Homo sapiens: one gene and its partners. The protein of the gene in region 1 purifies or fractionates together with the protein of each later gene. This does not show direct contact. Each region holds a gene or a part of one and is shown on either strand. Other genes may lie near its edges.

What was found.
Region 2: the proteins of EFL1 (region 1) and NSUN2 fractionate together in Homo sapiens (co-fractionation; 2 studies listed by BioGRID). This does not show direct contact.
Region 3: the proteins of EFL1 (region 1) and RPRD1B fractionate together in Homo sapiens (co-fractionation; 2 studies listed by BioGRID). This does not show direct contact.

The regions. Positions count from the first base shown.
Region 1 is NC_000015.10:82,222,211-82,232,930, reverse strand, and holds part of EFL1 (elongation factor-like GTPase 1), read left to right. Parts: intron 1-1,959; coding exon 1,960-2,083; intron 2,084-3,820; coding exon 3,821-3,897; intron 3,898-4,603; coding exon 4,604-4,740; intron 4,741-5,358; coding exon 5,359-5,481; intron 5,482-7,666; coding exon 7,667-7,766; intron 7,767-10,720. UniProt on the Homo sapiens protein: GTPase involved in the biogenesis of the 60S ribosomal subunit and translational activation of ribosomes.
Region 2 is NC_000005.10:6,599,064-6,609,783, forward strand, and holds the end of NSUN2 (RNA cytosine C(5)-methyltransferase NSUN2), read right to left. Parts: intron 8,322-10,720; coding exon 8,137-8,321; intron 7,850-8,136; coding exon 7,757-7,849; intron 6,346-7,756; coding exon 6,210-6,345; intron 5,623-6,209; coding exon 5,542-5,622; intron 5,214-5,541; coding exon 5,075-5,213; intron 3,438-5,074; coding exon 3,398-3,437; intron 1,170-3,397; coding exon 863-1,169; 3' UTR 176-862; downstream 1-175. UniProt on the Homo sapiens protein: RNA cytosine C(5)-methyltransferase that methylates cytosine to 5-methylcytosine (m5C) in various RNAs, such as tRNAs, mRNAs and some long non-coding RNAs (lncRNAs).
Region 3 is NC_000020.11:38,036,562-38,047,281, forward strand, and holds part of RPRD1B (regulation of nuclear pre-mRNA domain-containing protein 1B), read left to right. Parts: intron 1-897; exon of another isoform or gene 898-1,546; intron 1,547-3,873; coding exon 3,874-4,003; intron 4,004-10,720. UniProt on the Homo sapiens protein: Interacts with phosphorylated C-terminal heptapeptide repeat domain (CTD) of the largest RNA polymerase II subunit POLR2A, and participates in dephosphorylation of the CTD by RPAP2. Transcriptional regulator which enhances expression of CCND1.

The DNA of each region.
Region 1 (10,720 bases):
ACACAAATCAACATTTAAAAAAAAATCCTGGAAGAATAGAAACCACACCAGAAATCTAACTGATCAAAACAGTTGTACCAATAAATGATTATACCAATAAATGTATGAAATCCCCTACTAAGGAGATATTTTTTAGAAAGGAAATTTTATTAAAAAAATAAATCCATAAGTTTGCTACATAAAAGAGATAAACTTAAAGCATAATGGACAGAGGCTAAATACCAAAGCTTTAGCTCAGATTATGTCAACCAAATGTGAATGAAAAGAGAGGTTTGGCAATATTAACAATAAAATAGGATTTATGGTAAATGAATTATGGCATAAGGATCATTTTCATATAGATAATTGACACATTTACTAGTGAAGAGATTAACTATCAATTATCATAACAACAAAGTGCATGAGGCAAAAATAGAACTATAAGTAGAACTCTGTAGGCACATGGTTTGGGGGCGATTTTCACAGGTTAGTAGACAGGAACATGAACCATATGAATAGAATAATTAAAGTCAGAATTTAAGTGTCAGTGAAGGATATACAAAAATTGGTCCTATATCAGGTGAAAAAATAATTCAAATTTAAAAGAAAGAAAATGTCACAGGTTTCATGTATTCATCGCTCAGTCATTATCTCTGGTTTTAACCATCTAAGAATAGACCCAAGTCGCCAATATGGAGAGCAAAGCTTCAGCTGTATTATTGAGGCCCCAGGGAGCATCACTACTAACAAATAGGGCTCCCTTCTAAGGTTAGGTTGGAGAGTGCCTGGGAAGTCAGTCCACAGTGGTTGCCTCCTATTGTTTCTTTCCATATGTGGACCTTGGACCTGCCTGTAGGTCCTGAATTGGATTTGCAAATCTGCATGGCAGGTTGCAGCCTGCCTAGCAAAACTGGGTATTTATAAATGAAAAGCCACAGAGATAAGGGTATCCTGACTTAACATCTGGAAGTAAGGCTCTGTGTGCCGTTCTGGGTGTGCTGAAACACCGGAAGCCAGGAGGAGGCCTGAATCTTTTTAGGGATCCACAGAGTAGGCAGCAAGGCAGAGCCTGCTTTCTTTTTGAGGCATAGGAACTCTACCAGTGGATTTCAGCCTTTCACCTTGTCTTCATTTGTGGAAGAGTGATTAAAGAGTCACGTGTGAACAAAGATAGTTTTATTTCTTCTTTTCTAATCAGTATACCCTTTATTTCCTTTTCTTGTGCGATTGCATTAGGTTGGGCTTTCAGTATGGTGTGGAAAAAACTGGGGATATCCTTTTTTTTTTTCCTGAGCAGGCATCTTTTAAGATGCTGGTACTTTGAAAATTCTAATCTCAAACCTTAAACTAGATTGTTCTCTAAAGAAAAGGTATTTCTTAGGTCCTTTATCCAGACAATGCAGATGCTGTATATAGGACCCTTAGTTGTTGATTGACTGTCTTCCTGTGACTGGAGACCACGGTGGTAAGTGGTTTTTCTCTGTGGGTTGATGCGAGTTAAGTCAGTGTGTGTATGTTTACCATTAATCTAGGATAATAAAAATCTTGTTTTGGCAGGTTGTGGCTCAAGAATTTCTTTCATTTGTGAGCAGCTGTCACTTAACAGCAGTGAGTAGCTGAAATAAAATTTTATTGTTGGCATAGTTGTGACAGGCAGCTGGAGCTTGCATTTTCTTGTCCCTAATTTTATCTTGTTTTACACCTGCAAAATTAAGAAAGAAAGCTATAGCATGTAGTACAATTCATATTGGTGTAGACCTGAACATGGGCTTTGGAGCCAGACCGCTTGGATTTAAATCCCCACCTCACTTGTTCCCTGTGTGATATCTCTGCTTCATTACCCTTTTCTGTAAAATGAGGAAATTTTGTAGGATACTGGATTAAGTTTAGTAATACACGTGTAAAGAAGTTTGAACAGTACCTGTCACAGAAATCAATAATCGTTGTTATTAATAACATGAACATTTGGTCTTCTTTCAGAATTGAGCACTTCGCCAGAATCTACAGTCAAAAAATTGGCATCAAAAAGGAAGTTCTTATGAAAACCTTGTGGGGAGATTACTATATAAATATGAAGGCTAAAAAGATCATGAAGGGTGATCAGGTAATGTGGTATATGTCCCTTTTGGTTGTTGGTCATATTCTTGCCCTATGAAAACCTATACTGTAATATCTTTAATAAATGTAATTCAGCTTTAATTTATGCAGGTGAGTTCATGAGGGATTTTTTACTGTATATAATTGGGAAAGGCTTACAAGTCCATATACAGGTATTATTCATACAGAATTCTTAGTCCTTTTAAGTATAGTGAGCAAAGAACTGCCTTTTCTTTTCTTTCTTTTCTTTTTTTTTCAGAAGACCAAAAATCTTAGATCTTGGGCACCTGAAGACACACATTTTGTGCTGTGCATTTGTTTGTCCCTGTCACCATAAAGAGATGTCTCTTCTAGACATCCCTGTATGGTTCACACTGTCTTTCTAGTGTCAGCTGAGGCCTTATCTCACTGCATGCTGGTCATCGTGCAGTGTAGATCGGGAGAGGTGGGTGCTCCCTGAAACCCCTTCTATAGATAGAGGTGGTGTAGGAATGCTGTCATATACCCTCAAAGGATACTTTTCTTGGAGCTTTGTGTTTTTAATGTTAAAACCAGGATTTCATAAATTTATTCTCATTGAAAATCATATACATTGCTTTGAGAAAATATTCACAAGTATAAAGCCACAGTAAACAAAAAAATCAAAGCCAGCACTGCTAGTAGATGTTTATAATTTCTTTCATCCTTTTTACATAGATATATACATCCCTCAGTTGAGATATGCTGTTTATACAACGTAGCTGCCCTTTTGCTTTTGTCATATCATGAACATCTTCCCTTGCCATTAAAAGCTTTTTTATAAACAATATATTTTAAAGGGAGTGAATATAGCTAAGTGGGAAAGAGCATGCCTTGAGAGTTGACTCTGTGTTTGAATTTTGGCTCCACCACTTATTGGCTCTATGACTTTTATCTCAGTTATTTCATCTGTAAAATTGAGATAATAGCACTTATCTCATAGGATAGTTATGATTCTATGAAATAATTCAGTAAGCACCCTGTTATTTTATTTTGTGAGAGCACTATCATTTATGAATCATTCTCTTAAGATTGGACATAGTTTTTTCAAATGTTTTGATATTGTAGAGTTATGATAGACATCTTTGTGCATAAGTTTTATGTCTTCATGATGCTTTTTTTTAAAACTGAGCATTCTAAGCCAATGACTTTTAATTTCTTAATACTGTTGCCAGTAGTTCTTCAGAAAGGAGGTATCAATTTATTAATATATCCCATCTCGTGTATGGAAGAGTATACCCCTCAAGGTGCTCTTGCTATTAACTTTTTGCATAGTTTGTTAAGAGTAATGATGGGGTTTTTTGGGTTTTCAAAATTTTCCTATCCTTGTGAACCTTTAGAAATATGTTTAAGAATGCTTTATGTTTCTTGTAACATAATTTTAGACTGAAGTCCATGGAAAGAGCCCGCATGTGCAGAGTGAAGTTTTAGCTCTTGGCTTGTGTGCTGTGTGTATTTGTTTGATGGCAGCCATGGTAATATGACCCACAAATGGTCATATCACTTGTAAAGTCTATGGTTCCCAGAGGAAAGAACAGTGGATTATTATTGATTGTGGATTATTGACTGTTTAGTGCATTCTTATAACTACTTTCATCTACTTTATTTTTGAATAAATATTTTCAAGTAGAAATGAAACATATTGATAATAAAAGCATGTCAAGAAGGAATATATAAATGCCTATTAAATGTTCAGGAACTTAAGCCCGTATGTTCTTTTGTACAGGCCAAAGGAAAGAAACCTTTATTTGTACAGTTGATCCTGGAAAATATATGGAGTTTGTATGATGCTGTTTTGAAAAAGTAAGACTCTTATTGTTTACCTTTAGGCATCTTTAGGCAGTATAATTTGTCTCACTTTCCAGTTTGATGAGTCATATTTCAGAAAGCTGAGATTTTCTGAGAAAATGAACAGAGCTTCTACAGATGAGTTGATTACAGGGCTTGGAAGCAATTTAAAGAAGCCTATGTAACCCAGCTAAAGGGTGATGTTGGAGGGACAGGATAGCAATATTTTATAGAGTGCTGAGGAGAAGAGATGAAAGGATAGAAAGAAACATTGGGTCTTTGTTTATGCAAACCCACTTTTAAAAAATAGTTATTAAAGTAGAAAAGGTGCTTGATAGCTAGGATCATTAATGGGGAAGTTGAGAAATAACTTTTCTGGTATAAGTTTGCTTTAGTAAATTTGCTTTCTAAGTTATTCCTGAGATGGAATAATGACTTGTTAGCACTTATTTGTAAGACTGCTTTACCACTTGGTATAGCTTGCTTGAGGAGATGGTGGAGAAGTACTTCCTGGGAAATCTTAAAGAAGGATTCACTTGAAAGTGTAAGAGTAGAGGTTGGGGAGGCCCCTTGTGTGGCGGCAGGATTCCCTTCAATCATTTTTAGCTTTTTTTGAAAAAGTAACACATTAGGGTAAAAATATGCCAAATAATGTTGGGTTCCACTGCCTGTTTATATCTGCATATGACATTTCCCCTCTCCAATCTTGTGTTTACCACAGGGACAAAGACAAAATTGATAAAATAGTGACTTCTTTAGGATTAAAAATTGGAGCCCGGGAGGCACGACATTCAGACCCTAAAGTTCAGATCAACGCCATTTGCAGTCAGTGGCTACCCATATCCCATGCTGTTCTTGGTATCCTTTATTCTAATGGTTTTTAATGAAATAGTTTTGATAAAGCTAGAAAAAACAATGCGTTATGGTAACCAAGAAATTCTCTGGAAATAACATTCAATCCAAAATAAGTCTTCTCTGCTTATTTAGTGTTCTACCATGAAACTGTATTAAATACTTTGATAATTAATACACTAATACTAATTTGTGTTAACATTACTAATAGTGAACTTCTTTAGGAAGACTATTCTTTTTGTGTTTGTTTAGTAATCTATAAAAATAAAAATGTTTACACTAAGATTCAAATATAAGTAGATGATTTAGATGTTTGTGTTAGATAACTGTTTCATTTCAAGGTCACCTGTAGCCAACCTGCTAAGCTCTGTTCTCATTTGTTTCATGGGCCTCAGTGTTAAAGTATCTGTCATGAGGATCCTTTCTGAGCTTTAAGGAGTTTGTGAACTCCCTGAAATTGTATGCATGTTTTGAGATGTGATGCATAAAGCAGTGTTGCCTTGTAGCACAGGCATTTTCTGTATGGACAGACTTTGTTACCTCAATATTTAGTGCATACAGTGAATCTTCGCCTTGGTGGGAGGCACTGGCTCAAGGTTTTCAGTCCTTAACAATAGACTTCAGCTATGGTGTGTCAGAAACTTCCTAGTCCCCTTGATATTACAGCTGAGAGAGTGGAGAGACTGATGTGCACAGGATCACAAACTTTTGACTCTTTTCCACCAGAAACTCAAGCACTGAAAGCAGGTGAGGAAAGATGGACCTGTTGGAATATACCATGTCATTGACTGTCCTCCATCCAGGCTGCTCTAGACCAGTTTGCTGAACGCTAGTTTGCTAAATGGCCAATTTGCCAAATGTCCACTTCCACAGATGAACAGTTTCACAAATGACCATTTCACCAGTTTTGCCTCCCACCCTCACCCCAAAGGTTTTCTTGTTACAGCCATTTTGCTCAGGCAGTAGGGTGAGACCAGCGACTTGTACACATGCTCCTCGTGAGAAAAGAAGCTCCCATTCTGGGCTTTGTAGGTTCCATGAAATTTGTCTCCACGTATTTTCTTATCTCTAATTCTTTTCCTCCAGTTCTATTGGTTTTGTAACCCTGCCCCCAAACCACTACACTGTTATTCTTGGCATCACTATTGACTTTCGGTTCATTAAATCTAATGGCCAGTTTTCAGTCTTCACAGGACTAGATCTGTCACTAGCATTTGACGCAATTGATCACTCCTCCTTGAAACACTTTCGTCCCTTGACTTTTAGGCTTCCATTGCTTTCATTCCCTTGCTTCTGCTTTTCTTCGTGTCTCCCTGGCTGCTTATCCTTAATATCTCTTTTTGTGATTCCTCCCCATCTCCCTGGCTTTTTAACTTTGGGGTGCCTCAAGCAAGGTTCAAGTCTTTGATCCTCATCTGTTTTATCTGTAGTCCCTCTTTTGATAATTGTACCCAATCTCAAGACTTTAAATGACAGCTACATACTCATAATTCCCACGATTATGTGTCTTCAGAGCATGTCTGTTTTCTGGACTCTGGACTGATATCTAGAACTCCCTCTACACTGTGTTGTCTAAGAAGCATCTCAACTGAACATATCCCCAACTGGACTTTTTATCTTATCCCCAAGCCTGCTCACCTAGTCATTCCCATCTCAGTTAGGGAGACCTCAATCTTTTCATTTACTCAGTCCAAAAACCTTGGAGTCATCTATGGCCCTTATATTTATCTCACACTCCAACATCCAGTCCATCAGCAAATCCTGTTTATTCTTCCTTTGAAATACAGAATTCAACTATTTCCCAATGTTTTCACTTCCTGGCCAACATGGTGAAACTCCGTCTCTACTAAAAATACAAAAACTAACTGGGCGTGGTGGTACACGCTTGTAGTCCCTGCTACTCGGGAGGCTGAGGCAGGAGGATCGCTTGAACCTGGGAGGCGGAGGTTGCAGTGAGCCGAGATAACGCCACTGCACTCCAGCCTGGGCGACGGAACAAGACTCCATCTGAAAAAACAAACAAACAAACAACAACAACAACAATGAAACAACTAGTATCCCTGCTTCTGCTCTTGATTCCTGTTAGTGTTTTCTCAACTATTGCAGACAAAACAGAGTGATCCTCTTAAGATATAAATCAGGGCATGTCATTCTGTTCCTCATTCAAAGCTTCCACTGGCAAGACTTCTGATACATGTTTGATTCTTACTTCCTGTGGTTTTCTTTTTTCTTGTTTGTATTTTACTGTTGAATTCTTTATATATAAATTATTTTAACGTGAGGTGATGGAATTGTTTTAAAAAAATTCATTAATCAATGTTTTTTTACCTCCAGTATAGGTTAAGGAAAATGTTCATATGTTAATATGAAATTGCATTAAAATTTGTGTATTTAGGGAGAATTGGTATCTTAATAGTATTGAATCTTAATTTATTTCTAAGAATTTGTTAATATCATAATACAGTATTTTTGTCCATTTTATTTTCTAACTTGTTATTGTGGGGGATTGGGAAAGCTATTGATTTTTATGTATCTTATTAACAAGCTACCTTGTTGATTGTTGGCCTTTGGTAACATTCCTCAATTCTATTTTCTATACTTGATACAGTGAAAAATGTATTAGTGCTTATGGTAGGTGGTTAACCTCATTGCATAGCTTTAGCTTTCATATGAGATCCCTCACCCTGTCAAATTTGCTTGCTTTTCTTTTCTTATTTCTGCCAACTGTTTGCTCTTGCTCTGCTATTCTTTCCTAGCAATCTTACCCTTTTCTAATTAAAATTTTTATCATAGTTGGAAAAAGTTATGGACTTCTGGTGTATTTTGATGATGCCATCCATGTTCTAAACATTTTAATTGTTTTCCAGAAAAATCTGTTTTTTTTTTTTAATAATGGGAAAAATAGTGACATTTTTACTTCCTATTTGTTTAGCTTTTATGAAATGTGGAAGTGAGGACACTGCTCCAGTTATTATATTTGTTTCCAAAATGTTTGCAGTTGATGCTAAGGCCTTGCCTCAGAATAAGCCAAGGTAAGGGAAAGGGGAAAGTTGGGCTGGGCTAGGAATATGGTGTATGTTTGGTGGGATGCAGTTGGGCTGTGGGTAGGGGGGGCACGGATAATGCTTTTCCTCCTCAACCCAGAATTCATATCAAGCCAACCCCCAGGGTAACATACAATTTATACAGTAGTATATCCTTTTGTGATACCTCTGTAGGAGAAAGTTGTTGAAATCAGCTCTGGAATATTGAATTGAAGTGATGTAAGTTTGAAGAGTATGTTAGCAGTAGTAGCAACAATTAACTTTTATTAAACATGTCAGGCAAGTTCTAATCTAAGTCTGCCTTGTCTCATCTAATTCTGCCTACCTCAGTAGAGATTATGAATGTATGAGGATCTCTGCTTCCCTGTGTGTATTATGTGTGCACAGGTGTGATAGGTGTAGGAGAGGGATATTCCTCAAGTTCCAGAGTCTTGGGGAATCTGTGTCTTCTACATTTCCTGTTTTTTATGTGTGTTCCCCTCCTTCTGTCTCTGCTGCTTTCCCCACTAGTTTAGATTCTGATCATCTCTTGTGGATATTGTTGCAGCAACCTCCTAGCTGGTTCTCCTGCCCCATCTTTAGTTCCACTGATCCACTTGCCATTCTTTCTTTAGAGTGATCTTTATAAGACTCAGCTATGAAGATATGTCTCTTGCTCAAAAACCCTTAATGATCCTCACTGTCTTGAGCAGTTTTGATTCAAGTGTAAAGTGTTGGCGATGATTTCAGTGGTACTTAGGGAAACAAGTTTTAATATAATTAGTTGTCATATTTATTTTAATGTGTATTTGTGTGTATTGCCTGTGTATGTCAAGTGATAAAGCCTTTACCATGATGAGATTTTAAAGTTTTATTGAGTTAAAAATGTTTGTGCATTTAAATAAGTATTAAATAATAATATGCAGATATAGCAGAAATCATGAAAATGATATGTGAGTGACTGAAGGTCAGATCATCAGCCCGTGAAATAAACTTGACCTGTCTTAGTGGCATTTCTGACCCACCATGACCTGACCCCAAACCATGTTTCGACTAGATTTTTATTTCTGTTTCTCTAATATACTAGTGTCTGAACAAATGTCCTATCTGTACTTGTGCTGTTCCTCCATCTGAGAAGGCTTCTTTTCCTCTGATAAAATTCTGTTTGTCCTTCAGGGGAAAGGTTATGCTTTGTTTTTTAGTACTTCCCTAGTGATTTGGACATTAAGTGTATTCAATAATTTTTGTCCTGGGGATAAGTAAAGGAATAGATGGGTGAGTAAATGAAGAATGAATGAGTGAATATCCAAATGGGGGAATAACAGGTCAGTGAATGGGTGAATGAGTGGCTAACTGAGTAAGTAAGTGAGTGAATAATGGAATGAATGAATGTCTAATTATGTATCTAGGCTACTCCCAGATAATATTTCAGTGCTACATGTAGTAACAATTTCTTGTAGTAACAAATGTAGGATATTGGATGTTTTTTGGCCATTGGGAGTATCTGAGAGATTCTGGTAGAATCATAGGGAATATCAGAGAATTGGAAAACTTGCTGTTAAGATTTGAAATACATGTATTTATAGCATTTAAAATTCCTAGCTCTACCCATCCTTCATTTCTTGCTGATGAATAATAGTATTATTATGCCTCTACTGTTAATTACATTTTCTGTGAATGTTTTTCCTAATAATTCATCATATGCTTTTCTGATTTTAGTATATTTCTGATAGTGCAATCCATTCTATTCCATGAAGTTTTTTTACTGATTTTATTTTTGTCATTGTTTTTTAACCAGTATATCAGGTTCAACAATTGTTACATAATAATATAGTGTTTTCAGGTATACCTGGGCAAGGTCATCACCATTACTTTGTTCTTTTCCATCTTCTAGCTGATTTTTTTTTTTCATTTAAGTTTTATTTTTTAAATTTGGGAAAATGTACCATTGGAAGTTGGTTTGATAGCATTTTCATCTCCATTGTATTAGACATACAAGCCAGGAATAGCAGAGTATTATTTTCCTTTAGTATAGAGTACAATGTATTAGTGATATGTGCCAGGGAGAAAAGTAAGGCAGGAAACAGGATTCGGCGCCCACAAAGCCTAAAAAATTTTTTCCCTAACTTAGTGAAGACACTGACCTTTACTCACTGCTCAACAGTGCCACTGTGGTTGTAAATGAAGTGTGGGACTGTTACAGGACTTTCTCCTCTGTTCTTGTGTTCTTGCCTCTTTTCTTTGCTTCTTCAAATTCACCTTCCAACCTGACATTTGAATCTTCGGTCAACATTCTCACCTCTGGTCTCCTTCATCTCAGTATTAGTAACTATTGCCCCTTCAAGAAGTAACATCCATGGTTAGTTTAACTATAGCCTAAATAACTTAACACTCACAACTGTTTCCTCACTAGTAGGGCCCCATTTTCTTGTAATTAAATTTCTTTGTTCTCAACAAATGCTGGATACACAGTGGGTACTTTTTACACATCCTTGCTGATTACTATCTGCTTTGTTCCCCGCTACCATCATTCCCAGTGCCCAGCAGTGTGTGGCACACAGTAGTTGTTAACTGGATGGATGGATAGATACATAGATAGACAGCAGGCATCTATACAGTTGATGCTTACTTAATGACTGTACATGCTGATTATTCCAGATCACTTCATGAACTTAGACAGATGAGGATTTAATCTGCAAGTGAACAAATACACTTCTTTTTTCACTAAAACTAAAGTGAAATCACATTTACATAAGATGACAATTTTATCTTTAATTCCTCTTGAAGGAAAGACATAACCTGGTGATAATGAGCATAGACTTCAGAGCCATACAGATCTGGATTTGAATTATGGCTCCTCCATTTAATATCTGTGTGACTTTGGGTCGAGTTACTTAAGTTTCCAGTCTCCCTTTTCTTATATGTAGAATAGGAATACGATATCTACTTCATTTAATTGTTGT
Region 2 (10,720 bases), on another chromosome or scaffold:
TGGTCGGTGTTTGTACAGACCAACACACAAAATGAGGTAGACAGGAAGACAGCAGCCTTCACAGTAAAACCGCTTTCACTAGAGAAAATAAGGATGTATTCTAACACTGCCATTTAGCCAAAAGTAAGTTTGTTCTTTCTGCTTCCTAAGAGCAAAAACAGGAATCACACATGTATATATTTTATCAATTTTATTGAAATATTCCAAGGATCCCAACCCCATTTAAAAATAAAAATTGTAAAGCACTCCATTCAATAAAAGCACATAAGTCCCCCTCAATAATTAGTATGACAATTCACGATACAGCTCTTACTCTGGGAGAGTTTATTTTACCCTTTATTCCAAAAGGCACAAAGTCATCTGAGGCCTCAGATATTAACCCCACTGCATGTTAATGACACACCACTGAGGTGCAGCTCAATGTAATTATTAAAGCTTATAACACACTTCCCCAAGAATTTATAGATTCTTTCTATAAATAATAATTTAAAAAATACTGCACCTTAAGACCAATACAGGCTTAACAAAAGACCTGAAATTTCTGCAAGGGCAGTTTTGTTTCTTGATAGAAGTACAACTTTTGAAAGTCTATTCCCAGCAAAAGAAACACTAGACCCAGCTTGGCCAAAGAAACAAAATAAAACAAGTGATTTCTAACACGCTAAAAGAGTACATTTTCATCAGCTCCAAAGAAAGCAGTCCTGGTCATTCAGAAGGCTCCTATGATCCCACCAGTCTGCAGTCATTAGAAATATATGCTTTACAGGCCACAGGCTGCTCTGGATTTGGTTTCAGACACCAGTGACCAGAAGAAGCCAGTTTTGCGTGTGAGGGGTGTGGGCCCCCGCTGCCTTGGGCCTGCTCACCGGGGTGGATGGACCCCCGCCGGGTCACAGCCTGCTGTCACGTCTGGACTGTTGGCCTCTTCTGCATCTGGGCTGTTGGGCTCTCCTGCTCTCTGTCCCTCAGTCACGTCATTGTCTGGCTGTCCGGTGCTGGCTGCACTCTCATTTGTGAGGATAACCCCTTCCTTCTTCTTTTCTCCCAATACCTCCAGCCCCATCATCCTGAGATAATGAAGCCGTTCATTCTTGGGCACAAAAGTTCGAATGGAGGCCTTTCCCCGCCATCCGCATAAGACGATGGGACACTGCAGAGCGTCTGGATTCCTACAAGTGAAAGTGGCTTCATGTAGAACATTAAACATTCCCATAACTAAATCGAATGAGATGTAATATGCAACTGCTTAAAAAAGAAAACCACAGAAAACCCATACCCACAAAACCCCCAAAACTACTGGGAGGACATTTCATCTGGATCCGAGGGGTAGGTTTTCTCAAAGGACTTCCTTCTTCATGTCCTGAGTAAAATTCTCACCCTCGCTTTCGCCCTGCCTCTTTAAGTTCACAATGGAGTAGAGGCCCCAAATCTACAGATTTCACATACACTTTCTACATACTTCCTTCTCAAACTTAACTTACTGTCCCCGCCACCCCGTGTCACCTCACCCCACTAAATGAGAAGCGTTTCTCCACAGGCTCCCTGCAGCTCACCTCAAGTTTCCTAAGTGGACTGAAGCTCCTGAGAGGCTGGGAGACTCTGCCCTTAGCAGGGCGTCAGAGCAGGACCCAGGACCACCGGGAGACTCTGCCCTTAGCAGGGCTGCCAGAGCAGAACCCAGGACCACTCATCCTTTTGATACTCAGTGTTAGCGTGATTTCTTCTCCAGGGACCCCACATGGCAGTCTGAGCCCTGCTGGGCACACAGTGCTCATTTCCGTTCCCAGCATGCAGTGTTACCCACAGTCAAAAACATCCCTGCCTCTCTGAACATGCTCCGAGCCTCCCTACCTTCCAGGCTCCACCTGTCCAGCCAGGAGGCATCGACGCCCCAGCAGAGATGGACGCCACCATTTCCAACCTGCACACGCCCTCTCTCAACTTATCTGATTTCTTTCATACGGGACTCTGACCTAGATTTTAGGCTCCTAACGGCCGTGTTTAATCACCTTTCCATTTTTCCTAATGTAAAGCAGGGGCACAAAGGTGGTTTTAAGAAGTGAGAGGAAAATATAAGAAATTCCCAACTCCCATCTTCTTAAAAAAAAAAAACCATTATTCCTGAAGTTGACCTGTCACCTGTGTATTTCACCAAGTAGAAACAAGTGTTTAAATATGGAAAAGTGAATCCACACCTTAAAATATCCCAATATTTTCTATGTGGGCCACATGGGACTGTTATTTTAAAAACCATTTCTGAGTCTTTGTTCAAACTCTCGTTAAAAACACCCAGAAGCCATCAATCACTAGATGCTCCTGCCCGTTCACCATCCAGACACCATCCGCCTCCAGCAGGTCCCCAGGGTGCTCATGCGCTCGGCCTCGCTGACCTCTCCAGCCCATCCATCTGTTGTTCCCTCACCAAGTTCCTGCCCCTCCCACCTCAGCCCCCACCTGTCCTCTCTCCACATGGCAGCCGGACAGCCTGAACCCTGAGGACATGTGGCCCCTCGGCCTCCCTGCCAACCTCTTACCTATCCCTCCTCCTTCCCTACTTGGCTGGGCCCGCCCCGACCCCCAGCTTGCACCTGCCTCAGGATCTGCGCTTTGGTGGTTCCTTCAAGTTAGCACTGGATCCCTGGTCCAACACTAACTTCCCAAAGAAATCTGTACAGTGGTTCTACCTATTCACTCCCCCAAATCCCAGTCAGCCGTGGACCCCATTCTGTTTCCTCCTCTCAGAAATGGTGTTGCATGTCACCAAGACGGAGCTGTTGCAGGTGAGATCCGAATTCTGCCACTCGTGAGCTGAGGAGCTCTGGGCAAGCCACCTAACTTTCTGTCCCGGCTTCCTCCTCTGGCAAGTGCTGCCAAAACCAGCACCTGCTCCCCCAAGGCCCCCCACAAGGATGCAGCGTGAATACATGCAAGCAGCGTGGAGCAGTGGTCCCGTGGGGACCGTGAGTGCAAGCGTGAGCAAATCCCATGCTCCGGCCCTAGCACTCCTGATGCAGTAACATGTCAGCAACACACATGGCTGAACCAGCCATGAGGACAAAAGAACGGAACCTCACTCAACTGTCCAATCTTCACACTTACTCTGTACAAGACAGAAATTTTCATTGGTTTCTAATGCTTAAAAAATAAGTACTATGCATTTTATTCTCTGTAAGTAAAAATTCACTTAGCCTGAGCTGAGTGTTCTATGAAACAGCATCTTCATGATGACCTACAGGAATATTTTGGTTCTGAAGTTTTCACAAGGCTACTTCTGAGGAACAATCACAAAAGGCCTGAAGAAGGTTCCCACCTTCCCAAGTCACTTTCCTCACCAACGAGAACACTGTAGCTAATGACAAGGCGTGTGTGTCTAAGGGCAGGGCGTGTACTGACTTACGCAGAATCTGGTTCATACTTCAGCACGATGCTTCCCTTTGCTGGAAAAGAAACAGACACACATTTGCCAGGTTTTCCAGGTAGTGGATGCATGCGCTGAGCACATTTCTGCACCTAGTGATGTGTTAAGTATTCTGAAGAAAGAAAACAACAAATAATCTACATTCTTGGCTTCAAGGATCTAGATGGTGAAAAGAGGCCGTCTGGATACATGAACCAAGTCCAAATGACGCAGTAGGGACGATCTGGAAGAGGACCCAGGCAAAAGCCATTCAGGGACTTCAAGGGATGTCACCTGACAATCCACTCTGAGAAGCAAGGAGGCTGGGGATTAACTGCTGGTTAATTCTTCAAAATTCAAAATTAAATAAACTATAACACCAACTCCCAGAATGGCATGAAATACATAAAAATTGTCTAAAACAATACTGCAATCATCTAAGTGCAGGATTAAAAGAAAACCAGTATAAACAGGTCCTTTATCCTTTACAAGAATCTCTACTTTAAATTGTGGTTCTTGCCTGGAGACGGCAGTGGGAGACAGACTCCACAGAGCATGTTTTATATCCCAAAGGAACCACACGAGTAAGTTTTAAACGCAAGTAAGAAACGTAACTGCAAGAAGTGATTCACGTACTTTTGATCAAATTGAGCCAAAAATATTAAACAGCAAGTTATTTAAAAAAATAAACAAGAATGAAGACAACAGAAAGAAAATTAGAACAGCTTGGAGAAATGATTTTTATGCTTAGGGGAAAACGTCACTGGAGTGATCTGAAGTGGAAGTTGATGAAATATAAAAGCAGCAATATGACCAATAATCTACTCCAGCTGGCTAGCAGAAAAGTCAGAACTGCTGGCAAGACTCTTATTTTGCTCTAACACAGGTGATTAAAATCTGCATGTTAGCCAGTCTCGTGAGGCTGTGTACCTTAAAAAACAAATTTACTGGCTGGGCGCGGTGGCCCACGCCTGTAATCCCAGCACTTTGGGAGGCTGAGACAGGCAGATCACAAGGTCAGGAGATTGAGACCATCCTGGCTAACACGGTGAAACCCCGTCTCTACTAAAAATACAAAAAATTAGCTGGGCGTGGTGGCGGGTGCTTGTAGTCCCAGCTACTTGGGAGGCTGGGGCAGGAGAATGGCTGAACCTGGGAGGCGGAGCTTGCAGTGAGCCGAGATCGTGCCACTGTACTCCAGCCTGGGTGACAGAGCGAGACTCTGTCTCAAAACAAAAAAAGAAAAAAACAAATTTGCTCATGCACAGAGACCTGCTTCCACCCACCCCCGACCTGCTGACAGGCAAGTGGGTCAAGAGCTCTGGCTGGGAGGCTTGCCAGGGCTGCTCACAGGCTGACCCCTCCTCTCCCCGGACTCTCTGGCCCAGCAAGGTGAGCAAAGGCCAGCCCTGCACGCCACACAGACACACCACAGGCTGCTGGGCAGCAGCAGGGCACCACCAGAGCCTGGGGAAGTACACCAACCCCAAGATGCCTTTGACCCTTAGCATTCTGAACTGTCAATCAGGGATCTACAGAACCCTCTGGAAATTGATGTAGCCATAAATAAACTGAAAACTATGATTGATAAATATGCCCCAACGCACACCACCTGCATTTTTGCTGGCCTTATAAAGGGAATACAAGTTATGTCTCTATGCATTTCCAACTACTCACCCAGGTCCTTTGCTTGACTGTAGGTCTCACTGCTGAGTTTTCTAAAAAAGGGATTTTCCTGGGTCAACAGTATCTTAACATCTTCCATTGATACAGTAATAATTCTTGAGTTAATAAATGGATACAATGTATATATTCCCTGTGTGAATAAAGAGAATGAGAGAACAGATACCATGATGTCATTCATGAACGACAACAGCCTGCTCTCAGGGGCTATGCTCTTAGCGGCTATGGTGGTCGAGCCCTCACTATGGCCCCTCCCCTTGGACAGGTGTGGAACCCACCCCCCCCTAGGAGGGGAAACCAGCACTCTGGGAGAGCTCTATAACCTGTGAGGGTCAAGTGGCTGGTAGGTGCCAGCCAAGCCCTGAGCCACTCAGACCATCTGGCTGACCAGCAAGCCCATCTACTCCCGACTGCTTCAGTCATCTGTGGCTACTGCTGTTCAAATCCACTTCCAAAATTACCTCCTGTGCCAGCCGGAAAGCACAGTCAAACTCTTCACCGCTGTTATTTCTACACCAGACTTTGATCCCCGTGTTAATAACCTGTAAGTAAAAAAATAAGATGAAACACAGAGAGATGAAGACAGGACCATCTCCTGTAAGGATGCCGGGCCACATGGAGCAACCGTCACGGAATGGGAAAGGAGAGGAGAAGCAGAAACCCACCGAGAAACCCCGGTTAAGAACGAACTGATACTCACAACTTGTGATTACGTCGTTTGGAGGACAGTAAAGCAAATGAAAGAAGGGCCCCCAAATGGCCAAATTCTAAGGGAAGTACCTCAAAGGACAAATCCCAAGGGTCGGGGCAGCAGTACTCGCAGCCTCTACACCTTTAGTACCTTCTCTGCCCAGGAGGGCGAGCTGTGAGAACTACACCATGGCTCACCCCCCTGCGGGAATGGGGCACAGAAAAGACACAGGCCACCAGATTCAGGACTCTGGCAGGAACCATTCAGCCCTGTGTCAGTCAACAGCTCTGAAATCAAAGGGCAGGCTCAGGGACCCACAGCCAGCGCTACAGGTGGGGAGGGCAGATGTCACGGTCTGCTCCAAATGAAATCTAAGCCGCTGTGAAAAGCCACACGCATCCCGCATCACACAGCACTCAGCGTCTGTGCGGCTGGCACCTTCATCTTCTCACTGTTATTCAGCAGCACATTCCGCAACTCCTTAGAAACCATGTAGAGCTGCCTTTTCTTCCCTTCTGTAGTCCGAGTTAACAAATTCATCCTTGGGAATGAAGGATCCAAAGCATAAAATTTCCTGTACATAACAACATTGTTGTTTATCCACAATGAGTTCAAAATCTGGTAGACTGTTTCTAAACATCTTATTCTCCTCCTCCAGAATTCAATCCCCAAAACTGCAGTGTGGTTCAAGGGCACTGGGCTCTGCTCTGGACTCCAGCTTCTAAACTTCATCCACTTCCACCTGAAACCTCCACGTAACATTTATTTGGGGCACAACTCCATCAGAAACCTAAATTAACAAGTGCAGCTTCTCTCCCTCAGCCGCTACTCCAATGATAATGACCTGATAACACTACTTTTGAGACTTTTTTTTTTTTTTTGATATGGAGTCTTGCTCTGTCTTCCAAGCTGGAGTGCAGTGGCGCAGTCTCAGCTCACTGCAACCTCTGCCTCCCGGGTTGAAGCGGTTCTCCTGCCTCAGCCTGAGTAGCTGTGATTATAGGTGCACGCCACCACACCTAATTTTTTTTTGTATTTTTAGTAAAGACGGGGTTTCACCACATTGGTCAGACTGGTCTCAAACTCCTAACCTCATGATCTGCCTGCCTCAGCCTCCCCAAGTGCTGGGATGTGCCCGGCTGAGACTTATTTTTTAATAGACTTTTACAAATGTATGCAAAGGACCAGTTATTAAAAAAGACAGTAAGTGACCGCCCTGGTAAATAGATTCTAAAATTCAATGAATAAGAAACAGATGAATGTCAGACTTGTCCTAAACCCTTTTCCTCTATATTCTGTCTATGTCATCCCTAATTAGCCCTCACCCATGCTGCTCTTCATTTCTTCTACAGAAACTGAACTAGACAACCTTGGCTACTCGTCTATATACTCAATTGAGTAATTTAGGTTCAGGATCACAACTAATTTAGATTCATAATCACAGTCCAGTTTTCTTTTGTTTTTTTTGAGACGGAGTCTCGCTCTGTCGCCCAGGCTGGAGTGCAGCGGCGCGATCTCGGCTCACTGCAAGCTCCACCTCCCAGGTTCACGCCATTCTCCTGCCTCAGCCTCCAGAGTAGCTGGGACTACAGGTGCCCGCCACCACGCCCGGCTAATTTTTTTTGTATTTTTAGTAGAGACGGGGTTTCACCGTGTCAGCCAGGATGGTCTCAATCTCCTGACCTCGTGCTCCGCCCGTCTCGGCCTCCCAAAGTGCTGGGATTACAGCCGTGAGCCACCGCGCCCGGTCCAGTTTTTTTTTATCTATCATGTTCACAAAGTAAAAGTTTACTTTCTCCTTAAATTAAAAGATTGAGTAACCTCTAAAGTTTCATCCTGCTCTAATATGCAGTTAAAAAGGTTAAAAAAAAAAAAAAAGCTAGACAGAACTACATACAAAACAATGGTTACATGTGATCAGTTGTACATTTGATACTCTATAGTAAATTTCTTTAAATGAATAATTAAAAAGGCTGAATCCTTACTCAATAGGTGGAAATAATGGGTCATCTTCAGGAATAAATACAAATGGATCTTCTTTAAATCCAAATAACTTCATTTTCTTTGATGGAGGAGGACTAAAAAGGGAATCAGGATGAGACAAATCAATCTGTAATGTGTGGTAACCTTCAATACCAAAAGCACATTCTTCCTTTCTGTCAGTTCTGTGCAACATGGAACGGTTTGCGGCAGATGTTGAAACCTTCCGGCTTCCACAGAGTCCAGCCCTCACACTGCATGTGCCTGATACCACACATGTACTGCCCCCTCAAACCGACCAAGAAGTGGCTCTGGGATCCCATTTAATCCAAAAGGACTGTGAAGACACCAGCGTATTAGATCAAGACATAACCACTTTTCTTACCCACACACGCCATCTTTCTTACTGCCATTATTCTCTAAATCCTCAGTTGCATGAGCTATTTCTGTGTCACCAGTTCCTGTGAATGACGGACTTTCCAGCTTAGAGGGATCTGTGGGTTTCCCTTCTGTGAGATCTGCAGGGCTCAGCTGTGTGCTTTCTCTGGTCTCTGCAGATTTACCCTGAAGCTGTCATAAAGAACAATTTCATTGACACACAAAGAGGAGCATTCTTTGTGCTGCTACGAAAAGTTAAAAATACCACGTTCACAAAATCCATCAGTTATATTTTTCTACAGCATTATATGTAGAGAAAGACAACAGAATTTTTTTAAAGTGTCATTTTAAATCTACTTGCTATTATAAACAAAATTCATGGACAGTTTCTTTGGAGTTAAAGCTGATTCTACCTTAATCCCACAAAGAGCATATACAGCCTGTTCCTTAGCAGAGGCCTACACCACCAGCTTGTTCTCGTGTAAAAATGCTTATCGTGCATCTGCTCTGGGTAAGGCACACTGAAGGACACAAAGTGCACCAAGCACGATTTCTAAAATACCCGGCAGGGGCAAAAAGACAAGTATATAAATAACGAGAAAGGAGGGTATGAATTGTTCTTGGGCACCTGGACAAACTGCCACAGGAACTGGGAGAAAGAGAGAGTGCCCCAGGCACCAAGGAAACACCTGCCAAAGAATGAACTTCTGAATTAGGGCCATGGTATAATTTAAATTTGGCTTTGGGAATGAGCAAAATGTTTTACTTAAAGATCTTTAAAAAATACATGTCCTTTTTAACATTTTAACAGGTCACAAAATTGATAAAAGTCGTAATTCCTCAGTCCCTATGAAGTAAGTTTAAAAATTAGGATATTTCAACACAGGCAAGTTCATTTTACTCAGAGCCACAAAGCTACTGAGCAGAGAAGCCGGGAGCATCCCAGGGAACACCTTTTATTTCCATGTTAATATAATGTAAAAAAGCAAAAACCAAAACAGATGAACCCCAAGCCTGTGAGCAAGTCAGTGAGGGCACACGCCCTTCCTGTCCAACCTCAGCTTCCCCCAGAGGGGCCTTCTTGTTGAGTCCAGCTCCAAGGGCATGTTCTCCCATCTCTGTTCTACCTCAACAACCTCATTCTGGGACCTTCAAATACCAAGGTCAGTGTGAGCTTCCCTGGCCTAACTTCTAGCCAAGTGCTTACAGGCCTCAGCACCACAACAGAACACGGCATCCTGACCATGGAGACTCTACCTGCGTTCCCAGTAGGACCAACAGCAGCACAGGCCATGCTAGCACTAGATCTGTTGAACTAAGTGAATAAGAAACTGACATAGTAACAGAAAGAGAGAAGTATTCATATTATTTAAACGAGAAAATGACAATAAGTTGTTCTAAAAAGTAAGACTATACATAAGGGGCTAATTGAAAAAATGTCAAAACCTTTCTATGTAAGTATTAACACGTCAGAAACATCAATGTAAGCCCTAATGCAGGCCAACCTAAAGCACGCGTCTCTAAGACAGGCTCCTCTGTGACTGCACTGTGCTCTGCAGCTGGGCAGCCACAAGCCTGTGGTCACTGACCACTTAAAATGTGACAAGCGCAAAGTCTAAAACACAAGCTACTGAAACCTAGTATGAATGAATGCAAAGTATCTAATACTTTACAATATAATTTCTTATACTGATTCCATGAAAATAACATTCCATCAGCGTTAAGATACCTTGTGAGACTTTTAGCCTCAAAGTGAAATACTTTCTAACCTGACAGAAAAACCCTGGTGGCGGCAGAAGTGCAGTCGCCCCCTTTGCCCGTCTGAGGCTGTACGTTCCAACGTTAAACTGCACAAACCGTGCCCCAGAAAAAGGCTGGAGCTCTTTGCGGAACTGTTTCCTTTTTGTTCCTCCAAAGCTAAGCGTTTTTTGTCCTAATTTTCAAGCATGGATCTTAAAGAAATACAGACTTCCAGACTTTGATTCCAGGCCAGGTTCTTTCATCATGGAAGGCTGATTTATGAACTAATAAATAATGCTGGCGTGATACAGGTGAGACAGCACGCATTACAAAGGACTGCGTGTTAGGATGAGGGCAACACTCCTTCACCACTGTTTCCTGGCCTGCCTTGGAAAGGAACCAGCAGGCAGTTTAGATCCATAGCAAACAGGCCGGGCTGCATCTTTCTAGCCAGGTCTGGACAAGGCCGTCATCATTCCTTGCAGCCAAGGTGAACCCGGGCTGGCTTGGGGTCAGCAGAGCTCTGCTATCTGTAATTGGTGAAATGAACCACTCACAAGGAACTAGAGCACAGAAACCTGGGGCTTCCAATTGAGAGCCACAGAGCAATCTTTCATGTCTTTTCAATTTTTATTAAATAACTGGATTTACAGTGTGGCAGGAATACATTCCCCCAAACACTGACTTCTCCACTTACCTATCACCTATGAGAAATTTCTGCTTTTTGGAAAACTTGATATTTAAATGAAATTCCCCCTCATTCAGGGTCAGCTCTCCTGCTGCCCACAGCAAGAAGCTCCTCTTTCCTCTGTACTTCTACTAAACTCCGGTTAGTTTTTGTCTTAAATGTA
Region 3 (10,720 bases), on another chromosome or scaffold:
GATATCGCGTGGTGCCTGTTATATAGTTTAAAAATAGGAATTAAATCATGGTCTCTGATAGAATTTTCGTGGTTGAGTAAAGGATCTAAACAGCGCTATCCAATACAACTTTCTATGATAGCAGCATAAAGGATATAAACAGCGCTATCTAATACAATTTTCTGTGATAATAGCAATGTTTTCTATCTGTGCCATCCAACAGGTAGCCGCTTGGTATATGTGGCTATGGAGCACTTAAAATGTGTGACTAAGGAACTAAAGTTTTAAGTAGATAGAATTGAAAATTTAGTTTCCAGTTTTTACCAGCTGCAATTCAGGTGTTCCAATAGCCACACGTGGCTAGTGGCTAACTTACTGGACAGTGCAGAGTTAAAAAAAGATGCTCTTCCAAGCATCAATACCTAGCTTCCGAATATCCAGGCTTATTTCATGAACTGAAAATGCCCCCACACTGAAAGAAAAGGATTCTGTGCCCTAATGTTCAGATTGATTAGCCCTGTAGGTTCTACCTAGGGTGAAGTCATTTTCCGTAGCTGAGATGCTCACAGACTGTCTCTGAGTTGCCTTCAAAATATATGAGATTTATAAAAATTAACTTTTTTTCTTGCTTAAATACTTCTATTCCTGATGTGTTGTCTTTCCATTTTCTAGGAATAATTTTTAATTTATCCCATTTGAGCTCTGTTCTAAGTAGAACGTCTCCCCTTCTTTATGGACTAGTTTTGGTGTAAAGTGCTCCTAAATGAATGTTTTTAATGGTGTTTTGTATCTTGGCCTGAATGTAGGTAATGGGCTTTTATTGCAGAATTACTTTAAGACTTTCTGTAGATGTCAAAACCAGCCAAACAAGTGAAAAGTTTTGATTAACCAGTTGTTTAAATTTTACTCAACAACTAGTTTGACCAGTTTGGAATGGACATGGGTAGTGAGTGAAAGGACCTATTTCTGTCGTATAGGAAGGACATCTGAACAAGTGAGTTGTCCCCCAGGATTGGGATGGAGGGGTGTGCATGTTGTGTGTATTGTGACTGTGTGTGCTCAAGAGCTCTAGGGTTTTGTCATATCACCTTGACACACATGGTGCTTATGTTGACTGTTGAGGATGTTGAATATGGAGGGATACAGTTTATCCTAAATAAATCCCCATTGTTAAGTTCTGGGGTGATGAAAATTAATTGGCATTGTAAACAGTGAAAACCTTGGGTCTCAAGCCCCTTAGATACCTTGTTTGTCTACTGAGAAGTATATATCAGGTCTTGAATGTCCACACTGACATTTTACAATATGGATTCTAGGTTTTTTTTTTTTCAACATAAAGTGTATGGAATTTTAAAGCTTCACTTAATGAAATTTGCTTTGTTGAAGTTCTGTTTTGCTTTCGAATCTGCTAACTTGCATGGGATTATAGGTGTAGTAGTTTCACTTACATCAACTTTGCAGAGCAAGGTTTGCTTTAACAAAAAAGCACGTTTTGCCATAATCATACCTTTGTAGCAACAGTAGATATTGTAACTACTGACACTTTTGTTCTGCTTTTGAATAATAATTAGAAAGTTGAAGAAAGCTCCAGGTTCCTAGTATTCTTATCAGTTGGCCATCTAAACTAGGTTATTACCAGAAGGTTAAGACAATTCAGGGTATCCATATTTAATTTTATGAGCATTTAAGACATCAGTTTCATCAGTTTAAACTGTAATGTGCTATTAAAATCATGTTTTTAACTTGGGTTACTCTCCTGTAGCTACATTTTTTTTTTTTTTTTTGAGACGGAGTCTCTTACTCTGTCACCCAGGTGGGAGTGCAGTTGGCGCGATCTCGGCTCACTGCAACCTCCGCCTCCCAGGTTCAAGTGATTCGCCTGCCTCAGCCTCCCAAGTAGCTGGGTTTACAGGCGCCTGGCACCACGCCCGGCTGATTTTTTTTGTTTTGTTTTTTTTTTTTTTTTTTTTTTTTGAGACAGAGTCTTGCTCTGTCACCCAGACTGGAGTGCAGTGGTGTGATCTCGGCTCACTGCAAGCTCCGCCTCCTGGGCTCACCCCATTGTCCTGCCTCAGCCTCCTGAGTAGCTGGGACTACAGGCGCCCGCCACCACGCCTGGCTAATTTTTTGTATTTTTAGTAGAGACAAGGTTTCACCATGTTAGCCAGGATGGCCTTGATCTCGTGACCTCAGGTGATCCACCTGCCTTGGCCTCCCGGAGTGCTGGGATTACAGGCGTGAGCCACTGTGCCCAGCCTCCTGTAGCTACATTTTAAAATGTCAGATCTTATGCCTGCTATGTCAGACATATCAATGCTTTGTACATTTCAAAAGAAACAACTGGTTTCAGAGAGAAATAGAGTTACTCAGGTGTGTTAAGGTTGATAAAGAGCTTGTGTTTTTCAGGTACTTTAGCATTGGAGAAAACTTTGTGTTTTGAAACATCTAATTATGTTCTTATTTATTTCTTTTAAAAGAAAATTGGAACCAAAAATTGTAGGGATGTAACTTTATAGTTGAGAAATTATGTGCATAGAAGCCAGGGAATTCAGTAATGTTCCCCAAAGCAACTGTAACTCAGACATATTGCACGAGGTTTTTATGGTTTAATATATGATACCATATAGAGTAATAGGGAATAACCACATTTCATATAAATAAGAGAGAATTATGGTTTTTGTGAAAGCCCTAATTTTGCATATCTAGATTTCACACGTGTGTAAATTTTCAATAAGAGTGTAGTGTTAATGTATACTTGTATTTGAGCTAATATCTATTGGTGCACCTAGAGATTCTTCTATATTATTGATTATGGTTATTGGAGTATCAGAGAAATTCTCAGTTTAGGAGCAAAATTACAAGAAACCTTTTTTTTTTTTTTGAGACGGAGTTTTGCTCTTGTTGCCCAGGCTGGAGTGCAACAGCATGATCTAGGCTCACCACAACCTCTACCTCCCGGATTCAAGCGATTCTCCCACCTCAGCCTCCTGAGTAACTGGGATTACAGGCATGTGCCACCACGCCAGGCAAATTTTGTATTTTTAGTAGAGACGGGGTTTCTCCACGTTGGTCAGGCTGGTCTCAAACTCCCGACCTCAGGTGATCCGTCCATCTCGGCCTCCAAAAGTGCTGGGATGACAGGCATGAGCCACCACGCTCGGCGAAACCATTTTAAAATTGAAACCTAACTCAGTCTTTTTTTTTTTTTTTTGAGACAGAGTCTTGCTCTATTGCCCAAGCTGGAGTACAGTAGTGCAATCTCGGCTCACTGCAACCTCCACCTCCTGGGTTCAAGCGATTCTCCTGCCTCAGCCTCCTGAGTAGCTGGGACTACAGGTGCCCACCATCACACCCGGCTAATTTTTGTATCTTTAGTAGAGGTAGGGTTTCACCATGTTGGCCAGGCTGGTCTCAAACTCCTGACCTCAAATGATCCACCCACCTCGTCCTCCCAGAGTGCTGAGATTACAGGCATGAGCCACTGCGTCCGGCCAACTCAGTCTTTCATTCTGAAATATTTGATAATTAAAAGTGAGTTAGAAGTTGCTCATTTTTGCAGTAGAATAAATAAAAGCCCTAGTTTCAACATTAACACTGACTGCTTATCCTTTAGGAATTCTCTTTGGATTATCTTAATTTTTACTATCAATTAATTACCCTGGTTTAAACAACACAGCAATGAAGATGGCCCATTCTTTTTCTTTTTCTTTTTTTTTTTTCCGAAATGGTATTCCCAAACCTATTCCTTAGGTGGTCTTTTTAAACATATCTACTTGACCCCCCAGGTAGATAATACTTGTCTTAATGTTTTTTTAGGAGCAGCCCAGGGCAAAAGAATTGTGAATTGAGAATTTCTTTGGTGTAAGTTAAATTCTTTTCTTTTCTTTTTTTCAGCCAAATCAAATAGAAAGCTTACTTTTCTGTATTTAGCGAATGATGTCATCCAAAACAGTAAAAGGAAAGGACCTGAATTCACTAGAGAATTTGAATCTGTCCTTGTGGATGCTTTTTCTCATGTTGCCAGGTATGTTGTCTGTTTTTTGGATTTGTTTTTAAATTCATTGCCTTTCCCACCTTTTTGTTCTTTCCTTTTCTGTGATAGCCTTTGTAAATTGACAACTTCCTACTTTACAGAGAGTTGTGGAGGCCGAATTGTGGTTTTATGTTTTGTTGAGCCCTCAAGAACTATCGAGACATGTAAACATTCTGATACATTTGAGAGATTCAGCCTAGCATTATCTTTCTTCTAGATATATTCATTTTCATTTTTTGAATTTATTTCTTGGTTATGGTATTTTCCTTGGTTTGGTTGAGTTGTCTCATCAGCTTATGATCAAAAAACAAAGCTAACTAGTAAGGGAACCTTTTAGTAACATAACTTAATAGCAAGAAATTAATTGCCAAATGCCTTCCTTTTTATTTCCTTCTGGATTTCTAGATGTCTAGTTTACTAAAAATAGTAGGCATTACTGTAACTGCAATAATAGTAATTATTAGTGTAGAAAGTAGGTGTTTGCTCTGGCTATATTGTATTAAGCCTGGTGCTGTTGTGTTTTGTGGCAGAGAGGAGTGGCACTCATACAACTAATACCATAGAAAGCATACATTGGATTAAAAGTTTTATAAATTACTTTACTTCATGTAAAAACAAAAGCTTTCTGTGGGCTTAAATTAGGTGCCCAGGAAAAGCAAAGAAAAACTATCGTTCATTAGAATATTATGTTTATAAGTAAATATATAAACAGATATTTGCAAAAGGAATTGGGAAACATGAATGGGAGACTAGTAGGTTAAACATAAATTGTTACTAGGTCTAAAATATAGTGAAAGGCCTTAAATGAGAAATGAAGTCCTGCTTTCATTGCAGGATTTGAAAAGTTTGAAGGAATAAAATTAGAAATCCAAGAGAAAGAAATGACACCTAGCTTTCTAGAGATGAAAAAGATGGTTTTTGTGGATAAGTTACATAACTGGCTCACCTTTTGATCAACATGGGCGCAAGTAGCAAAATGTGTTATTAACTTGAAAAAAATACTGAATCTTCATAACAGAGTAAGCTTAGAACAGACTACTAGAGGAGCTATCTGAAATAGACAGATTTTCTTGCTTTGATGAGATTTAGTTCACAGTTGCTTAGAAATTGATGGTAGCTCTGCCTCAGACACTATGTGAGTGACCTTGGATGTGTTACTTAACTTTTTGAGCCCAAATTTCCTAACTGGCTAAAGGGGGAGGATACCACTCCCCCTCATAAGAGTTGTGAGGGTAAAGACAGACAATATGTTTAAAAGTATGTAGTACAATGCCTGTTCCACATTTGCTCATTCATTGGATCATTTGTTTTTTCCTATATTCCAGGCACCTAGTAAAGTGTCTGGCACAGAGCTGCTGAGTTATGTAGCTTGAAGGAATACCATTTATATAGCCTCCATGTAAGTGGTGTCCCAGGAGCTGGGCAACATTATGGTCTGCCCTGACACAGTAGGCGTTCAGTAAATATTTGTTAAATGAGTTAATTAATGTTAACTCATTATGGAAGAGATTTGGTCTAGGGAGTTGGCTGGAATGATTTCTTGTAGGGATAGTAAACATAACAGTGTTATTAAAAAATTCCAGCCTGGGCAGCATAGTGAGACCCTGTGTCTACAAAAAATTTTTTAAAAATTAGCCAGGCATGGTGGTGTGCACCTGTAGTCCTAGCTACTTGGGAGGCTGAGGCAGGGGGATTGCTTGAGCCCAGGAGTTCAAAGCTGTAGTGAGCTATAATCATACCACTGCACTCCAGGTTTAGCAACAGAGCATGACCCTGTCTCTAAATTACAAACAGACAAACGATCTGTAATCTTTAGCTGTCCTGAAACCAAAAAGTAAATAGAAAGGGGTGGAAAAGGGGGTGGGCAACACCAGGGTTAAAAATTCCTTTTTTCTTGGGAACACCTTAAAAACTAGCCAGGTTTTAGGTGTCTTGGCAGATTCAGTGGCAGTGTGAGGAAGATAAACCTGGTCCTTCTCAATAAAATAGCCCGAATTCCTTTCTGTTTGCATTCTGGTTCTTTTAAGATTCTGCTTGGGTATTACATTCAGGATACCCATGTTTCCAATCTCCTTTCTTATACCCCATTATTGGGACAGAAAGTCCAACAGTTCTGCTTCAACCGTGATGCAGCTCGTCCACAGTAGGAGTAGCCTAATTAACATATACTTTCTGTGTGCTTTTTCTGTGGTCAGTTGATGAACAAAGATAGTTGACCCATTACTGTTGACTAAATTGATGAGGGATATTTTTATGATAAAAGACACCTCCACACCCAAAACAAACAAACAGTAAAAAAAACTCTCAAGTCAGAGAAAGCTGCCAAGTTCATAGGATAGATTTGATTTGAATAGCAGTTTAATTAACCAGACTGCAAACTTGCTTTTCATACAAGTGCCTTGTTTTCTTCCCAGTGAGGAGACAGCTGTCCATGTCATTTTTCATTCAACATGTATTGGAGTGCCTTCTATGTGCCAAGTATGGATCCAGACACGGGGGGAGCAGCAGTGAACAAGGCAGGCAAAGACAATTAAATGAGCAAGATACTTTCAGAGCAGGACAATATGGACATAGTAAAATGGAGTGATGTTCTAGAGTAGGATCTCACAGGTAGTGTGGTTCAGGAAGGCCTCTAAGGAAATGACATTTGCGGTAATCATGCGAAGCGGGAGCAGCTATTAAGAAAAACTTAAGGCAGAGATCATCTTGGCCTTCTAAGAGAAACAGAATGAAGGCTGGTGTGGTTAGAATATAGTGCACAAAGGGAAAAGTGATATCCAGATGAGGTCCGAGAGGTGGACATGCAGCAGTCACATACACCCTGTAAGTCTTGGAAGTTAGGATTTTTTTCTCATGGGATGTCATTGAAGAGTTTTAACCAGGGGAATGATATATTCCAATATATTCCAACATACATTTTTAAAACATCCCTCTTTAAAAATGGCTTAGTGTAGAGGGATGGATTGTAAAGGCCAAGGGAGGGGCGGGGACATGAGTTTGGAGGATATTGCTGTGATGCAGGCTAGAGGTGACATTGCCTAGGACTCAGAAGCAATGGGAAGATACTAATAGCTTCCATTTATTGAGTGCTTCCTTCGTGGGAGGATCCCCACCTCTCCAGTGTAAAACTGATAGGATTTATAGGCGTTGAGTGGGAGCTGGTAGTAAGTGAAAAGAGAAATCAAAGACGATTTCTAGGTTTTTGATGTAAGGAATGACTGATGGTGCCCTTTACTGAAGTGAAGATTGGGGAAAAGATTTGGTGGAGGAAATCACGAGTTTTGTTTTGGCCAGGCCGAGTGTGAGGTGGCTAGTGAATATTCCAAGGAGTGATGCCAAATAGGCAGGTGGATAAAATAGTCTGAAGCTCAGTAGAGACTTGATTTCTGGAGACATAAATTTGAGAGTTACCCACATGATATTTACTTATTGTTGTGGGCCCCAAGACCACTCCCAGGTTTGGTGATTCCCTAGAATGACTCACAGGGCTCATCATGTAGTCATAGTCATGGCAGTGATTCATTACAGCTAAAGGATCCAAAGCAGCAGCAGCAGCAGAGGGTGATGTGCATGCAGTACCCGCAGCAGACTGGAGCGCTCTGGGTATAAGCTTCCGAGTCCTCTCTCAGTGTTATTCCACAAACACGCTTAATTCCTCTAGCACTGAGTTGTGATGTGTATGATGTGTAACCTACCAGGAAAGCTCATTAAAGACTCTGTGCCCAGAGTTTTTATTGGATTGGTCATGTAGACACCCTCTGCCAAAATTCTAAGCTCCCAGAAATAAATCAGGTGTTCATTTTTTTTTTTTTTTTTTTGAGACGGAGTCTCACTCTGTCGCCCAGGCTGGAGTGCAGTGGCTTGGTCTTGGCTCACTGCAAGCTCCGCCTCTCGGGTTCATGCCATTCTCCTGCCTCAGCCTCCCAAGTAGCTGGGACTACAGGCGCCCGCCATGATGCCCGGCTAATTTTTTGTATTTTTTAGTAGAGACGGAGTTTCACCATGTTAGCCAGGATGGTCTTGATCTCCTGACCTTGTGATCTGCCCGCCTTGGCCTCTCAAAGTGCTGGGATTACAGGCGTCAGCCACCGCGCCAGGCTCAGGTGTTCATTAAGAACCGTATTGCTTGCACAAACAATTTAGGCCCAGTAAACCACCCTTACCAGTTAGGAAATGGTAGGGACACTCGGAAATCCCAAGTTCCCAGACCACTTCCCTAAGGGTAGCAGTCTGGCCTTCTGTGTTAACTCCTTTCTGAACCAGCTTTACATGAGGTACTGTTGGAAGTGTAGGGAATACTTAGAATTCCTGCCCTTAGTAGGCCTACCATAGGCCTGCTGTGCATGAGATAAGACAGAGTTGTACAAATTACTGTGGTTGTACTGAAAAAGTGCCATAGAACTGTAGAGGAAGAAAAGGCCCCCAAGGCTGGCTTTGCAGGGACTCAGGTGTCCAGCTGACACGTCAAGCAGCCAATTCTGTTTGTGTGTATCATATACATTTTTCACTCTTAAAGGTCAGTTTTGCTATCTGTATTGAAAAATAAAGTGATTGAATTTGTTATTAATCAGAATTAAAATATGAAGTGTTCAACGTAATATTAAGTTGTGTATGTAATTATTTGCCATCTTCCACTTTATTCATAGATTGTTGGCAAAGATTGTTCAGTCTTTTTTTCCACTTAAAGATTTCTCAGTTTAGATTGGAGTTAGTACAACCTGAAAATATTTCTCTTTCTGTTATAAAACGGCTTTATTACTTTGGTTGTATCTAATTCCAGATGCCAAAGTGACTTCCATTTCGCTGGAGCTACTTCCTTCAAAACCTAATCAGTAGAAAGATTTCTTGAATATTTTATGTATAACTTTGAAACTTATCTAGCAAAACTTTGATTTACCACAATGTTCAAGGAAATATCTGTCCTGGTTAGTTATATTCACTAATTAAACTAGAACCCCCCTTTTGGCCTTTAGTAGTAAAAGCCTTTTGAAAATGTTTTGTGGTTATAACAGGTTTGAGCATCATTTTCCACTGTGCCTGAAACTGTACACAAAACCAGTCTTAGCCTGAATGGAGTCCCAAGTATCTCCAGGAATGGTGGGTGGTGGGTGTGTGTTGTGATACCCACCTACTTTTAAACTAAGTCCTTGATAAGAATTTATTCTCGAGACTGGTTTCTCTTTCTTTTAAGCGAACAGAGAATCTGCAGCAAACAGATTTTATGCTAAAAGTACCAGCTAGTTCATTAACTAAGTTCTGATTAGTTGCAATTTGGTTTTACTAATTATAATGACTTTATTTTTCTAAGCTATACATTTGCTCACATTAGGGACCTCCCATTGCCTGCAGGCCACGTGCTTTAATATGGCATTCAGGGCTCGCTGTAATTGAATTCCACCCTCCTTCCAGATTCTTCTGCAGTTTCCGCACATTCCCCCATATACTTCAGCTACTTGAATTACTCCTTTCCCTTTGCCTTGTTCAATTTTGGCTATTCCATTTGAAGGAGAAGAGATAGCATGAACAAAGGCACATGCACATGAGAGAACAAATTCTGAGTAGCAAATACATACGGGTGGGTGTTGCTGGAATGCAAAGTTCCAGGTAGGGTAGGGAAAGGAGACTAAAAACAGGTCTGAGGGATTGCTGAGTCGAGCCCTAGAGGTCAGGACCCAGGCCTTCTTATTCTTTGTAAACCTTCATTGGTCGAGCTGAGGAGTGCTTAGTTGATTTCTGCCATGACCTTGATACAGTAAGATGATTGTTGAAAGTTAAGTAACTGTATTACTTACCGAAACCCATATACATTTTTCTGGAAAAGATTACAATTTGACAGATATTCATTGTGCTTGTTCAAGGGCATATAGCAATGGGAGAAAATGACAAATCTGCACCCCTGTGGAAATTACATTCAAATGGAAAGCGTGTAAACAAAAAGTAAACTATTGAATATACAGCATACCAGAAAAGTTGTATGGAGAAAAATTGAGTAGGGGCAGGGAGTGTTATTTTCAACGTGGAGATTAGGGAATGACACACTGAAGGTGGTGTAACTAAACATACCCCTGAAGGAGGAGAGGAATTGAGCTGTGTGGCCACATGGGGAATGTGGTTCCAGGCAAAGCAAACTTTTGAAGTGCTAAGGCTCTGAGGCAGTGCTAGGGTAGCTGTTGTTGAGGCAGGAGGTTGGAGGACGGGGGTGGGGAAGAGTGGGTAGGAGATGAGGCCAGGGAAATAACAGCTGGGTTGGGAAAGGCCTTGGAGTCTTTATAAGGACTTTTATTCTGAGGGATACTGGGAAGAAATGTTGGCAATTTTGAACAAAGGAGTGACGTGGTCTGCCTTAGTACAGCAGCTAAAATTGTATTTTGAAAACTCGAGAACAGGTTGTAGGAGGACAAGGGTGGAAGCGAGGAGACCAGTAATGAGGCTACTGTAGTAATGCAGGCGAGAGATGATAGTGCCTTGGGCCAGATTGATAGCAGAGGAAAAGATGAGAAATAACTCATTTCCGGATATATTTTGAAGGTGGAGTAAAAGTGTTTTATCACAAATACCAAGTAATTGGGTCATATTTTTAAGCTTTATAAAATTAGCAGTAGAAATGTTTTTCCTTTTTTTTCCCGAACCCTCACTTCTGACTTTAAAAAGTTTAACAAAAAAAGAATTAATTTTTATGTACTCTGATTGAGTCCTTTAGTCAGTGAA